Linked DNA regions of Homo sapiens. The protein of the gene in region 1 interacts with the protein of each later gene in a pairwise test. Each region holds a gene or a part of one and is shown on either strand. Other genes may lie near its edges.

Region 1 (7,700 bases):
GACTCTGTTTCCAAAAAAAAGAAAAAGAAAGACCAATATCCCCCACAAACACAGACACAAGAATACTCAACAAATTATTATTAAATTGGGTCTAGAAATATATAAAAAAGGAAAATACAGAATGATTAAGTGGGATTTATCCAAAGAATGCAAGATTGTTTCAATGTGGGAAAACTCAACCAATGTAATTTACCAGATTACCAAACTAAAGAAAAAAACCATGATTATCTAAATGGCATTTGACAAATTCAAATTTCTTTCCAAAAAAACTCTCAGCAGACTAGAAATGAAAGGAAATTGCCTGGATATGATTAAGGACAACTGTAAAAACCGATGACTAACATCATACTTAATGGGAACAAGATAAGGACATCCTTCTTTCACCACTGCTATTCAATATCATAGTAAAAGTTTTAGCCAGTGCAACAAGGCAAGAAAAACAAAGTCATTCAGATTGAAAGGGAAAGAAAAAACTCTATTTGCAGATGTCAGAATTGTTTATGTAAAAAAATCCCAAATAACACACGAAAAAAATTCTAAAGCTAGTCCTAAAACTAGTAAGAGAGTTTAGCAAGGTCATAGGATAAGAGCTCAAAATACAAAAGTCAATTATATTTCTATGTACTAGCAACAAACAATGGATTTGAAATTTAAAAAAAAAACTAGTAACAAAAAGTGGAAAACTTAAACACAAATCTAAAAAAAATATAGTATCTATATATTGAAAACTATAAGATACTAATTAAAGAAACCAAAGAAGACCTTAGATATGTGGAGAGATACATTATCTTGGTTTGGATGAAAAATTATATGGTCACACTATCTACACAGGTAATAAAAGGTACTTTTATTTCTTTTGTATATTCCCAGTGCTTATTTATACAAATATAAAATTCTTATCCCCCCTGGCATTACACAATACCTCACTTGTTCAACTTAAAATATATCCTATAGAATTTTCCATATAAGTACATAGACATTTTCCTCATAAAAAAATTTTTATTGTGAAAATAATTTTAGACACACAGAAAATTTGTAAGAATGGCATAGTAAATACTCACATACCACCACCTGGATTTCCTTATTTTCTTTGATAAACATGGTATTTGATTGTGTGAAGTTAATTCATATATTTCTCATTGAATAGTTAGATGCTGAAAATTCTGTCTTACCCCACTGCTGTCAGATGGGGTGGAGAATGGTAGGAGATGGAGTCTAACCAAAATGCATAAGCTTTGAAGCGAGATAGAGCCAACTCCAAATAACCATTCTGTCACTTATTGGCTGTATGGCCTTTAGGCAAGTTACTTAACTTCCCCCGGTGTCAGTTACTTCATAAGTAAAATGAGAATATAACTACTACACCAAAGGTTACAGTCAGAATCATGTGGTGATATGATAAAGTACAAAAGAGTACTTTAATCTTAGGAAAGGTAAAATAGAGCTGCAGCAGTGTCATCATAGCCTTGACCTTATTCATAAGTTTGGTTAATGGAACAAGGTGAAAATCTACCTGACTATAAAATTTAGTTGGTGGAGCTAAGTGACAGAGACCGTATAAGAAGCACTGTTATCCTTGGCCATTTCAATTAATAGAATTATCTTCTCAGCCGTGGCCGGGCGCGGTGGCTCACGCCTGTAATCCCAGCACTTTGGGAGACGCGAAGTGGGCGGATCACGAGGTCCAGAGATCGAGACCATCCTGGCTAACGTGATGAAACCCCGTCTCTACTAAAAATACAAAAAAATTAGTGGGGCGTGGTGGCGGGCACCTGTGGTCCCAGCTGAGGCAGGAGAATGGTGTGAACCCAGGAGGCAGAGCTTGCAGTGAGCAGAGATCAAGCCACTGCACTCCAGCCTGGGCGACAGAGTGAGACTCCGTCTCAAAAAAAAAAAAGAATTATCTTCTCAGCCTTGGGCTGATTCACCAGTTCATTAAAAAGCCAAAGACTCTTTCAAATCCTAATCTCTATACCCAGAGCCAATACTTTACCAAAATATCTGGATTGCCCACATAAGGTGAGGAGCCAGTTAGTGAATTTGCCATTTTTATTCTTTTATTTTACCAACAAGATATGAAAACTTTGGGTGTTCTGTTTGCATTTCTTTGTCCACGGAATACATTTCCAACTCCAAGGGGAAGTAGTTGCAGGGAACTTTACTGCCATTCGTGTAACTACAATGTCAAATCATCTGCAGCGTATATTCTATTTGGAGGCCTTTTCCTGGCTTACAAGTAGAGAGTGAAACACAGCCTCTATTAGTAGAGCCGTTTCAAAATTTATTCATTCACTCACCTAACAAAAACTTTCCAAACCCCTACTGTGTGCCGGGCATTGTACTTGGTGTTGAAAAGAAAAAAACAAATTCCTGTCCTTAAGTAGCTTACAGCTCAAATAAGGGGAAATAAGATACATTGACAATTATGAAGTGCTTTGGGAGAGAATAGAATGGCTTCACAGAAGAGGCTAAGTTTCTGTTGAGCTGGTGAGACTGACAAGAGGAAGGCCGTGCGCAGCAGAGTGAGCATAACCTGCAAGCACAAAGACATTCTATGGTAGCAGGCTTGACTTCAGAGTTCCACTGGGGCACTAGGTGCAGAGTAGGCTGGAGGGTTTGGCTGAAGCTATTACCAGTTTGGTCTTCATCCTGCTCAATGGAAAACTTTTCGTTCAATGGGGGAACGATTAAATGTTTTTAAGCAAAGACCTGAGATAATCAGATTTACTTTTTTAAAAGATCTGGTAGCCATATGAAGGATACTTTGGAAGGGGTAATAGGAAAACCAGTTAGGAGGTTATCGCAGTGAAACAGAATGTGGTCTTCATGGAATATCTAGGATTTCCGTGAATGAAATGATCTTGTTTGATAAATGGGGTAATGTCTGAGAACTATTTATCAACTGAAAATCAAGAGGGAAATCAGCAAGAAAATCGGTATGTTTGGCATTATTTCAATCAAAATCCTGGCAGAATTTTTGTAGGTATCAACAAGTTGATTCAAAAAATTTGGGAGAAAGGTAAAGGAACTAGAAAGTTAAAGGAACAGCCAAAACAAATTTGAAAAAGGACAAAGTTGGAGGACTATACTCCCTGATTTCAAGTTTATTGAAGACTTCAGGTCCTTTTCTCTAACTCTGTAATTGCTTAAGTTCTTATACGGTTTGCCAGACAGTGAATAAGGGAAAACAAATGAAAAACACGAATTTAATCAGTTTGGTTCCCTGACTGCTGCTTAATATGGAGATTTGAGGAGAAGGTGAAAACTCTCATTACACAAAAACACGTGGATACATGTATCACTCATCTCTTAATTCCACTGATAAACCAGAGGTCATTGCAAGATAAAACATACATAATGAAAATAATTGGCTGTTTGCACTGACGCTTTAAAATACATTTTCATTTCCTATTAAAAGCTTTATTTGGTCCCTTTCTCTGAATAATGTATGCAGTGCTCATTTCTCTTCACCGGATCGGCTCAAAGCTTGATGAATATGGCTGTGGTTTGATGGGCAGTCTCTGCATCTCACATTGAGGCTCCGCTATGAAAAGAATTAGAATAGCAAGATCAATTGTCAGGCTAAGTAAATGAGCTCTCATCTCGGATCTGATTGCTTATATGAGAGGGCTGAAGTGATTCTTGGCTGCACTCTCAGGGAGAAGAGAGAAATGCATTTTAATTGCCCTGGCAGGGATAACAGGTGTTCTGTCCAGCTACCAAAACGCAAAGCCGCGTCTTTGCACTATAGAAGGCTTTCCCTTAAGTGAGAATACATATTCTTAAAGCAAAACAACTCAGAAACGCTGGTGTGGTGATGCACGCCTGTAATCCCAGGACTTTGGGAGGCCGAGGTGGGCGGATGGCTCGAGCCCAAAGAGACCAGCCTGAGCAATATGGTGATGACCCCGCCTCCACGAAAAAATACAAAAATTAGCCAGACGTGGTGGCGCGCGCCTGTGGTCCCAGATACTGGGGAGGCTGAGATGGGAGGATCGCTTGAGCTCGGGAGGTCGAGGCTGCAGTGAGTCGAGATCGCACCACCGTAATCCACCCTTGGCGACAGAGGAAGACCCTATCTCAAAAAAGCAAACCACCAAAAAAACCAGGGACAGCTCAATGCTCTTTTCCGTTTCATAGCTACTTACACTCAGATTTACAAATACCTATTAACTTGTAGACAGGGCAAGAAATAATTTATGCTGAAGAGACGAAAGACCTGAAAACAGATTTCTGTGTTTTACTCTCCATGTGGCCATCATGGACGAGGACGAAGAGGGACTTGATTTTTCCTTTAACGAGAAGAATGTTTAAGCTCTGAATTTTTAACCAATTTTTATGCTCGTTACTCTGCTGTAGGGTATGTATTTACCAAGATTAGCAGAACACCGCGAGTTCACCAGGCGGAGACAAGTCACTGTGAAGTGGGCAGCACAGGACCCCCCGGAGGGCAGGCGCCGGAAACTACATATCCCGGCGTGCCCCGCTCGCGAGCACAGTGGAGCCTGCCGCCATTCGGTTCACGGCGCTACGCATTCCCTGAGCGCCGCCGGATGCCGGCCTGGGTCCCGCCCAGGGCTGAGGGCCCTCCTGGGCCGGGAAAACTACAGTTCCCGACATGCCCTGCCACGGGTGCGCCTGCGTACCGGAGCTACTGCGCCGGGGAGCGGGTTGGTTTAAAATGCTGTGTTAGTTCCACGGAAACCCGCTCGCCTGCTGCAGTACGGAGCCTCAGGCGGACAGATGGACTGTAAGGTGAGGCTGCCGGGCCCCGGGCTGGTGAGGGGTGGTCGGAGGCTCGCGAGGCTTCGGCTCAGATAAGGACAGTCACCACTCCCTGGCGCCCTCTCCCTGTCCTGACGGAGTCCAGTCTCACTCCCTGGACCTCAGGGCCCTGATTTAAGGCGCTTTGGCGTTGGCTGCCGGTGAAAGCCATTTAGGAGCGAAGTTTGCATTGGCCTGGCTCCAGCTGAGGGATGGGAGATAGCCACCGAAGCCTCCAGATAAGCCCAATACCACCTTTATTTATGTGTTAAGTTGGAGTTTAATAGGTTCCTGGGAAGGCTATTTCGGCGTTAATGTTTGATTTTTGCCACCAGTTAATCCTCCCTGGCTTGCTTACCAGAATATAGGTGTCAGGAATTTGCACTTGTTCTTTACGGTTTCCGCAGTACCTGGCGCTCTTGCTAGAACGGAATAGACATTCGTTAAATTCCTGTCGAAGTATTCTCCTGTTTATTTACCACCTATAATTTCCCAGGCACTGTATTAGGCTCTAAAGATAGAAAAATGTCTATTTTTAACCCCACTTTAGAGAAGTTCGTATTAGTCCGTCTTAAATGCCCCCCAACACATGCTTCTAATTTGTTAATCTTGGCGTGCTCAGGACTAGGTCCTTTAATCCTTTGTGTTCTCTGTTATCCCGCCTTATGGTTTTCTTGAGCTCTTCAGAAATTAGTCTCCAGTCCACACCTCACCCCCAAACTTCAGATCCACAAATTCAATAATGTATTTGGTATCTTTCATGTTTTAAATTTGACATTTTAAAAACTACTCTTTATCTTTTCCACAAAACGGATTCTTCCTTAATAAGTTTGCATTGTCTCAGTGATAGCACCATCCAGGCCAAAAACCCTGTAGTAATCTTGGCTTCTTCCTTTCCCTCATATCTCATATCTAATGCATCAGCAAAAGCTATCTTTCAAGTATATCTAACCACTAACCACTTCTTACAGTAGGAATACCGCTGCTGTCACCTTGGTTCTGGCCAGCAGCATCTCTACTTCTGCTTTTGTTCTTCCACCATTTGGAGTGGGAGGGAGTCAAAATGATCCAGTTAAAAGGAAAGTTGGATAGCATTCCTCAGCTATAGACCTCCAGTGACTCTGAGAATCACTGACAGCAAAAGCCAGACTTCTACAATGGCCTTCAAGGCTCTGTGTATTCTGTTTTTTGTTTTTTTGAAACGGAGTCTCGCTCTGTCGCCCAGGCTGGAGTGCAGCAGTCTCAGCTCACTGCAAGCTCCGCCTCCTGGGTTCACACCATTCTCCTGCCTCAGCCATCCGAGTAGCTGAAACTACAGGAGCACGCCACCACGCCCGGCTAATTTTTTTTTTATTTTTATTTTTGTATTTTTAGTGAGACGGGGTTTCGCCGTGTTAGCCAGGATGGTCTCGATCTCCTGACCTCTTGATCTGCCCGCCTCGGCCTTCCAAAGTGCTGGGATTACAGGCGTGAGCCACCGCGCCCAGCCGTATTCTGGTTTTATTATTACCGTCTGACCTCATCTCTCAATGTTCTCTGTGTTACTCCTTCCTCTCCAGCCAAACCCACCTCTTTATTATGTGCGGACTCATCAGACCTTCTAACTTCAGGCCTTTGCACTTGCTGTTTCCGTCTTCTGGGCCTTTCTGCCCTCTGATATCTATATAACAGGTCTTTGCTCAAATGTTATGAGGCCTTCTTTGACCACCCTGTTTAAAATGAAAATCTGCCCTGTAGCCTCCATACCATGTTCTTTCCTATTTCATTTTCCTCCTTTGCACTTATCACCAATAAACAAACTATGTATTTTACTTAGTGTCTGTCTTCTTCAGCTGGAATATAAGCTCCACGAAGGCAGGGAGTTTTGTTCGTACTGTTCTACCCAACCCCTGCCCCCCGCCTCATTGCCTATAACAGTGTGTGGCTCATGGTAAATGTTCAGGAAATATTTGTTAGATGTGTGAGTGAATGAAGACAGTGTTACCATATTATTTTCTAGTGGTTGTGATAAACAACATTGACTCCCTGGACTGTTATTTTGGAACCAACAGCATGTACTTGTATACGCTTTTGCCAGTGTACACCTATTGCCAGGTGTAGGAATGGAGCCTGTGTCCACAGAAGCATGTGTTCTCTTTTCAAAGTCATCTGGTTTTTACTAGTATATTACTTGTGACATTGGTCTTTTTCTTGCCATGCTTTCCATAAGGTTACCTGCCTAGAAGCTCTTTGGAAATATTCTCCCTAAACATCAAGACAGAATTCTGTTAGTTTGATAATAATATATGCATAGAAATTAGTTATGAATGAACTTTTTTAAAAATAAAAGTTTATATCTCAGTATTTTTATTATTGTTACTATCAAGCGTTAGGACTTAGGTTCAAGGCAGCAATCAATATTTGCTCCTTTTCAAACACAACAAAGCACAGATATGTTAAAGCTGTTGTCTCTTTGCTAGAATGTCAGCCATTAGAGGTAGATTGTTTTCATGTAAGACTGTGCTTCTTAGACTATGAGCCATAGAACTATGACTTATGAGGATCTGCCAAGTGGCCATTGGAGAGTGTGCGTGTATTTATGTATGTAGGGGTGTGGGTGGCATTTCTGCTACCACTGCTTTGGGCCTACCAGATGGGGAGGACAGGCAAGGGTATGAGCAACTGCAGTGAAAATGAGAATCTCTCTCTAACTTTAAGCCCCAACTTGGTAGATTAATTTACTGGATTGAAAGTTCTTATCTCATACTTTAACAGCCTCCCAGATACTCGGGGACTCTGCCTGGTGGCTTTAAGGCTGTCCTCTTGCTACTCAGCCATTACCGCCCCCTCCCTTGCTTCCAAGGACTCTCCTGACCTTGGCATTGTTTGGTTTTTGTTTTTGTTTTCCCATGGCGGGAAGTGGAGGTGGTGGTTGGGAGGGAAGGTTTTTAACTAAC
Region 2 (6,572 bases), on another chromosome or scaffold:
CATCACTACCCTCTCCCCTCCACACATATGCACTGGAGGACCAAAAGGACAAGGGTCACCAAGCTTGTGGTTACTACTGCTTTCACAGCCACTTCTTTGTCCTCCCCTTCCCAGGGTCCAAGCCTTCCCTTCCCAGTTGGTTTAAGAGTCAAGATTTACCCTCTTCACCCTTCCGCTCTGCATGTAGCCTCAGCCTCCCTTCCCCCACCACAGGGTGACAGCCTTTTCCGCTGGAGCCCTGCCTGGTACAGCCCTGTGCATCTTTCCACCTCATCAACTTTTCATCTCTTTGTAAACCAAATCGAGAAGTGTCTCCCTCCTCCCTGCCTCTCTCTCCTTCTCCGTTATTAGCTTCATGAGTGGGGACATTAATGTATTCACTAGACAATGTCTTCACACCACTGTTTCCTGTAATTACAGTCACTTCCCTTCCACTGTCCTGGCTTATTTGACTGAAAAGTGCTTGGAGGAGGGACAGTGTGGACAAAAGATGCAACACAGGCTGAGATTGAGTAGTGAGTAGTGTAATGTTAACATCCAAGAAAGTAAAACAAATAGTCACCTCTGCAGCAGCTCATTAATGACTGGTAACACATAGAGGTCAATGTGCCAGAGCTTAAAAAAAAGTACTGATACAATTGAAGGCCCTTCCACTATAAATAGGATGGAGGATGGGTCACTGTGTCCGTATTACCAATGACAGTCACCCCAAGAAACACAAGCAGCTGCATCCACCCTCTTTCAGGGGGTAGAGCCACTATACTTCTCATGTAGATCAGCCACATTGTCACTGGAGACTCGGATCCAGCCATCCTCCCGCACGTGGTAGAGGTTGACTGCACCTCCTGAGTAGGCATCTCTGTAGGTGGCTTGGTAGATGGCTCGACGGGCCAGATCATAGGCCTGCTCCACTTCCAGGTCATAGGAATAGCCCCGATCCATGACCCCATATGCATACACAGAGCCAGAACCTACAGAGAAGGTGGCCCCTGAAATCCGGTTCCCTTCACTGTCCACGTAGTAGAGGCCTGGAAAGGGAGATGAGGTTAGCAGGAAAAAAAAAAAGATCACCCCTTTTGATATCTAATTCATATGCCAAGGCAGTAGTTCTTTTTTTTTGAGATGGAGTTTTGCTCTTGTTGCCCAAGCTAGAGTGCAATGGCGCAATCTCGGCTCACCACAACCTCCGCCTCCTGGGTTAAAGTGATTCTCCTGCCTCAGTTTCCCAGGTAGCTAGGATTACAAGCGCTCGTAACCACGCCCAGCTAATTTTTGTATTTTTAGTAGAGACGGGGTTTCACCATGTTGGTCAGGCTGGTCTTGAACTCCTGACCTCTGGGGATCTGCCCTTCTCGGACTCCCAAAGTGCTGGGATTACAGGCGTGAGCCACCTCGCCCGGCCAGCAGTAGTTCTCTTAAAACCTAGAATAAAATTTAAAAAAATAAAAAAATAGGCCGGGCGCGGTGGCTCATGCCTGTAATCCCAGCACTTTGGGAGGCTGAGGTGGGCAGATCACCTGAGGTCAGGCGTTTGAGACCAGCCTGACCAACATGAAGAAACCCCATCTCTACTAAAAATACAAAATTTGCCAGGCGTGGTGGCACATGCCTATAATCCCAGCTACTCAGGAGGCTGATGCAGGAGAATCACTTGAACCTGGGAGGCAAAGGTTGCGGTAAGCCAAGATCGCGCCATTGCACTCCAGCCTGGGCAACAAGAGTGAAACGCTGTCTCAAAATAATATAATAAATAGGCCAGGCGCGGTGGCTAACGCCTGTAATCCCAGCACTTTGGGAGGCCGAGGCGGGTGGATCACGAGGTCAGGAGATCGAGATCATCCTGGCTAACACGGTGAAACCCCGTCTCTACTAAAAAACAAAAAATTAGCCAGGTGTGGTTGCGGTCGCCTGCAGTCCCAGCTACTCAGGAGGCTGAGGCAGGAGAATGGCGTAAACCCGGGAGGCGGAGCTTGCGGTGAGCCGAGATCGCGCCACTGCACTCCAGCCTGGGAGACAGAGCAAGACTTTGTCTCAAAAAAAAAAAAAATAATAATAATAATAATAAATAAATAAAATAATATATATATATATAAAAGAGAAACCCAGGGAAGCCAACATAAATACAAGATAGGACTTCTATAAAATTATTATTATTTTTTTAAAAGCTAGCTGAGTGTGGTGGTGCATGTCTGTGGGAGGTTGAAACAGGAGGATTGTTTGAGCTCAGGACTTGCAGGCTGCAGTAAGCTATAATCACACCACCACACTCCAGCTTGGGCAACAGACTGAGATGCTGTCTTCAGGAAAAAAAAAAAACCTGAAGGAATAAAATTTAATATTAAGACTCCAGGATTCTACAACATACCACCCCATCTCACCTTATATTATAATAACTACCTTGCCATGTTGCCGATCCTCTCAGCACACCCACAAAACAAGTACATTCCAAATGACTTAGGTTTCAAGCACAGAACTTCAGACACTGTGAAAGATAACATTTAAAACATAATCCCCGGCCAGGCGCAGTGGCTCAAACCCGTAATCCCAGCACTTTGGGAGGCCGAGGCAGGTGGGTCACCTGAGGTCAGGAGTTCAAGACAAGCCTGACCAACATGGAGAAACCCTGTCTCTACTAAAAATACAAAATTAGCCAGGCGTGGTGGCGCATGCCTGTAATCCCAGCTACTCAGGAGGCGGAGGCAGGAGAATCACTTGAACCTGGGAGGTGGAGTTTGCAGTGAGCCGAGATCGCACCACTGCACTCCAGCCTGGGCAACAAGAGTGAAACTCTGTCTCAAAAAACAAACAAACAAAACATAATCCCCACTCCCCCATCAAAAGACCCCATAATCCCAGTCACTTGAGCCCAGGAGGTTGAGGCTACAGTGAGCTGTGATTATGCCACTGCACTGCAGCCTGTGTGACAGAAAAACAAACTCCATAATGCCAGAACTCAAAGAGTTTAGACTATCTGGAGAACAAGACATACTTTACACAGGAGGATAATAAAGCCTAGAGTTTGTAATCACATTGTAAAGACCTGCACTGTCCATATGGTAGCCACTAGCCACACAGGACTAGTTGAGCATTTGAAATGAACTAGTACTACCTGCTAACATAATATTTTGGATTTATTAGGTTAAACAAAATATATTGAAATTAATTTTTTTTAATTTTAAAAGCGTAGCTAGTATAAAATGTAAAATTACATATATGGCTCACATTATATTTCTATTGCTGGTATAGACCAGGGTTTGGCCAGGCCAACTGCCTTTATTTTTGTAATTAAAATGTTATTGGAACAGAGCCACTGTTTCCATACTGTCTATGGTTGTTTTGTGCAACACCGGCAGAGTTAAGTATTTGAGACAAAGATTTAGGCCTGCAGACCTAAAATATTTACTATTTGGCCCTTTATGAAAAAACTAGCTGACTTTTGGTACAGATGAAAATTTAGACAAAGTGTTCAATCCCAACTGCCTACTGGATCCCTCCAGCTGGATGTCTTTGTCATCATGTACAGATTCAAACTTCCTAAACTTAGATACCAGTGGTTCTCCATTACCTACCACACTCATCTCTCTTGTGCGCCACAAACCCACGCTTCCTCCTGTCTTCTGAAATTCTGCCAATAGCATCACTACTCTTTTTCCTGTTTCAGTGATTCTCACATCTCACTGTGCACTAGAGTCATCTAACAAAGATTTTTTTCAAAAATGCACAGGACTTACCCTAGGTATTTTTTATAACTGGTGTGGGGTGGGAAACAGGTATGGAACTTGTTTTTTAAGTCCCCCAGGTGATTTTAATGCAAGCCAGCTTGAGCACCTCTGCCCTTATTGGTTTTCAGGTTCAGGTGATTCTGATGTCTACCTTACTCCTTTCTCTGGCCCCTCCTCAGCCCCAGTGCCATGCTCTCTTGCCTAGAGGGGGGTCATCATCTGGTTCCAAAGTACCCTTCTGGCTTTATGGCTCACTATTCCCCTTCACCCACTTAGTTCCAATTAAACTGGACTTTCAGTTACTCCTCAAAAGCTCATGCTTCTTTCCTCCCTTTCTTTGTTATGTTCCCTTTCCCTTTTTTACATCCAGGACAACCACCACCAATCCATGAAGTCTTCCCCAATTCCTCCCATCATAAGTAATCTCTTCCTCCTCAAAACTCCTTCCGCATTTGACTGGTTCTTTTTATTTATTGATTGACTGACTGATTTTTGAGACAAAGTTTCTTTCTTGTTTCCCAAGCTGGAGTGCAATGGCACAATCTCAGCTTACTGCAACCTCTGCCTCCCAGGTTCAAGTGATTGATTCTCCTGCCTCAGCCTCCTGAGTAGCTGGGATTACAGGCATGCACCTCCAGGGTTCAAGAGATTCTCCTGCCTCATCTCCCTGAGTAGCTGGGATTACAGGCATGTGCCACCACAGCCGGCTAATTTTGTATTTTTTTTTTTTGAGATGGAGTCTTGCTCTGTTGCCCAGTCTGGAGTGCAGTGGCACGATCTCAGCTCACTGCAAGCTCCACCTCCTGGGTTCACGCCATTCTCCTGCCTCAGCCTCCCAAGTAGCTGGGACTACAGGCGACCACCACCACGCCCAGCTAATTTTTTGTATTTTTAGTAGAGATGGGGTTTCACCGTGTTAGCCAGGATGGTCTCGATCTCCTGGCCTCGTGATCCGCCCGCCTCGGCCTCCCAATAATTTTGTATTTTTAGTAGAGACAAGGTTCCACCATGTTGGTCAGGCTGGTCTCGAACTCCTGATCTCCGGTGATCCACCCATCTCGGCCTCCCAAAGTGCTGAGATTACAGGCATGAGCCACCATGCCCAGCCAACTGGTTCTTTTAAAAACGGTATTTATCAGGCCAGGAGCTGTGGCTCACGCCTGCAATCCCAGCACTTTGGGAGGCCGAGGCGGGTGGATCATGAGGTCAGGAGATTGAGACCATCCTGGCTAACACAGTGAAACCCCGTCTCTACTAAAAATACAAAAAATTAGCCGGGCGTGGTGGCGGGCACCTGTAGTCCCAGCTACTCGGGAGGCTGAGGCAGGAGAATGGCGTGAATCCGGGAGGCGGAGCTTGCAGTGAGCAGAGATGGCACCACTGCACTCCAGCCTGGGCGACAGAGCGAGACTCCGTCTCAATAAAAAAAAAAAAAGGTTATTTATCTTATTCAGCCTTGGGTTAACTAGTCATCCTTTGGTATATGAAGGGGATTTGTCCCAAGACCCCTGCATATACCAAAATCTATGCACACTCAAGTCCCAAAGTTGGCCCTGCAGAACCTGCATATATGAAAAGTTGGCCAGATATGGTGGCTCACGCCACCCAGCACTTTGGGAGGCTGAGGCAGGTGGATCACCCGAGGTCAGGAGTTTAAGACCAGCCTGGCCAACATGGTGAAACCCTGTCTCTACTAAAAATACAAAAGTTAGCTGGCAGGGTGGCGGGTGTCTGTAATCCCAGCTACTCGGGAGGCTGAGGCAGGAGATCACTTGAACCCAGGAGGTGGAGGTTGCAATGAACTGAGATCGCGCCATTGCACTCCAGCATGGGTGACAAGAGGAAAACTCCATCTCAAAAATAAATAAATAAATAAATAAATAAATTGGTCCTCTGTATATTTGGGTTTCAAATTCTGGGAATGTGTATTTTCAATCAGAATTAGGTTGAAAAATACCTGCGTATAAGTGGACCTGAGTGATTCAAACCCATGTTGCTCAAGGGCCAACTGTAATATGAGGCAAGGGGCTGACTCACAATGAATGGGACAGGGTCATCAGGAAGGCCTCTTGAAGAAGGCACTGTTTAAATGATGCTCAGTCTCCCTGGATTTTCCTTGTTACCCGGTCCCTGTACTCTTTTACACTGTTTCCATCACCTAGAACAAATCCGCCAGCTAAAGGTTCAAAGCAACATTTCCAAAATGCTTCCCTGGATCACGTAAAATGTATGGAACTGTCTTTTCCCACCTTTCAGAGAAAAGCATCTCAATTTCCAAAGTAACAAAGTGAGCTCCTCTCTCACATCCGGTTTTTAATTTCCTTTCATCCTCCATTGGGTAGTAAGTGGATACTCCCTACAGCCCTTTCTATTCTCGTTTGAAAGCAAGTGAAAAAGTGGTAGGTACCCTATAATTGTTCTATAAGATAACTAGGTATTTAGTAAGCAGGTAAATGAATGAAGCAAAATCAAAAGGAGGAAAGAATAATTATTTTTAAGCATATGGAAGGGAAAATTAGAAGGTGACTAGCTATACTCCAACTTTACTAAACGGGCAATTCAAAACTGGCTGATGAGGAAATGACATTAAATACAAAGTTGAACTGTCTGGCAAGTTTCTTAAATGCTGGAAAGGAAAAACAGGCTAAGGAACTTATTTTCAGAGATGATAGAACCGGACCTAGCATGATTGTAAGGGTGATTATAACCAGCAAAGAAATAAAAGAAATGAGCCCAGGACTAGGCGCAATGGCTCACTCCTGTAATCTCAACACTTTGGCAGGCTGAGGTGGGCAGATCACCTGAGGTCAGGAGTTCAAGACCAGCCTGGCCAACATGGTGAAACCCTGT

The links. Proteins that work in one complex are often made in the same cells at the same time.
Region 2: the proteins of CCDC150 (region 1) and PSMB5 interact in binary tests that used the Homo sapiens proteins (3 or more experiments, as listed by UniProt).

Annotation. Positions count from the first base shown.
Region 1 is NC_000002.12:196,635,024-196,642,723, forward strand, and holds the start of CCDC150 (coiled-coil domain-containing protein 150), read left to right. Parts: upstream 1-4,691; 5' UTR 4,692-4,743; coding exon 4,744-4,755; intron 4,756-7,700.
Region 2 is NC_000014.9:23,025,348-23,031,919, forward strand, and holds the end of PSMB5 (proteasome subunit beta type-5), read right to left. Parts: intron 2,483-6,572; coding exon of another isoform or gene 2,398-2,482; intron 1,029-2,397; coding exon 742-1,028; 3' UTR 509-741; downstream 1-508. UniProt on the Homo sapiens protein: Component of the 20S core proteasome complex involved in the proteolytic degradation of most intracellular proteins. This complex plays numerous essential roles within the cell by associating with different regulatory particles.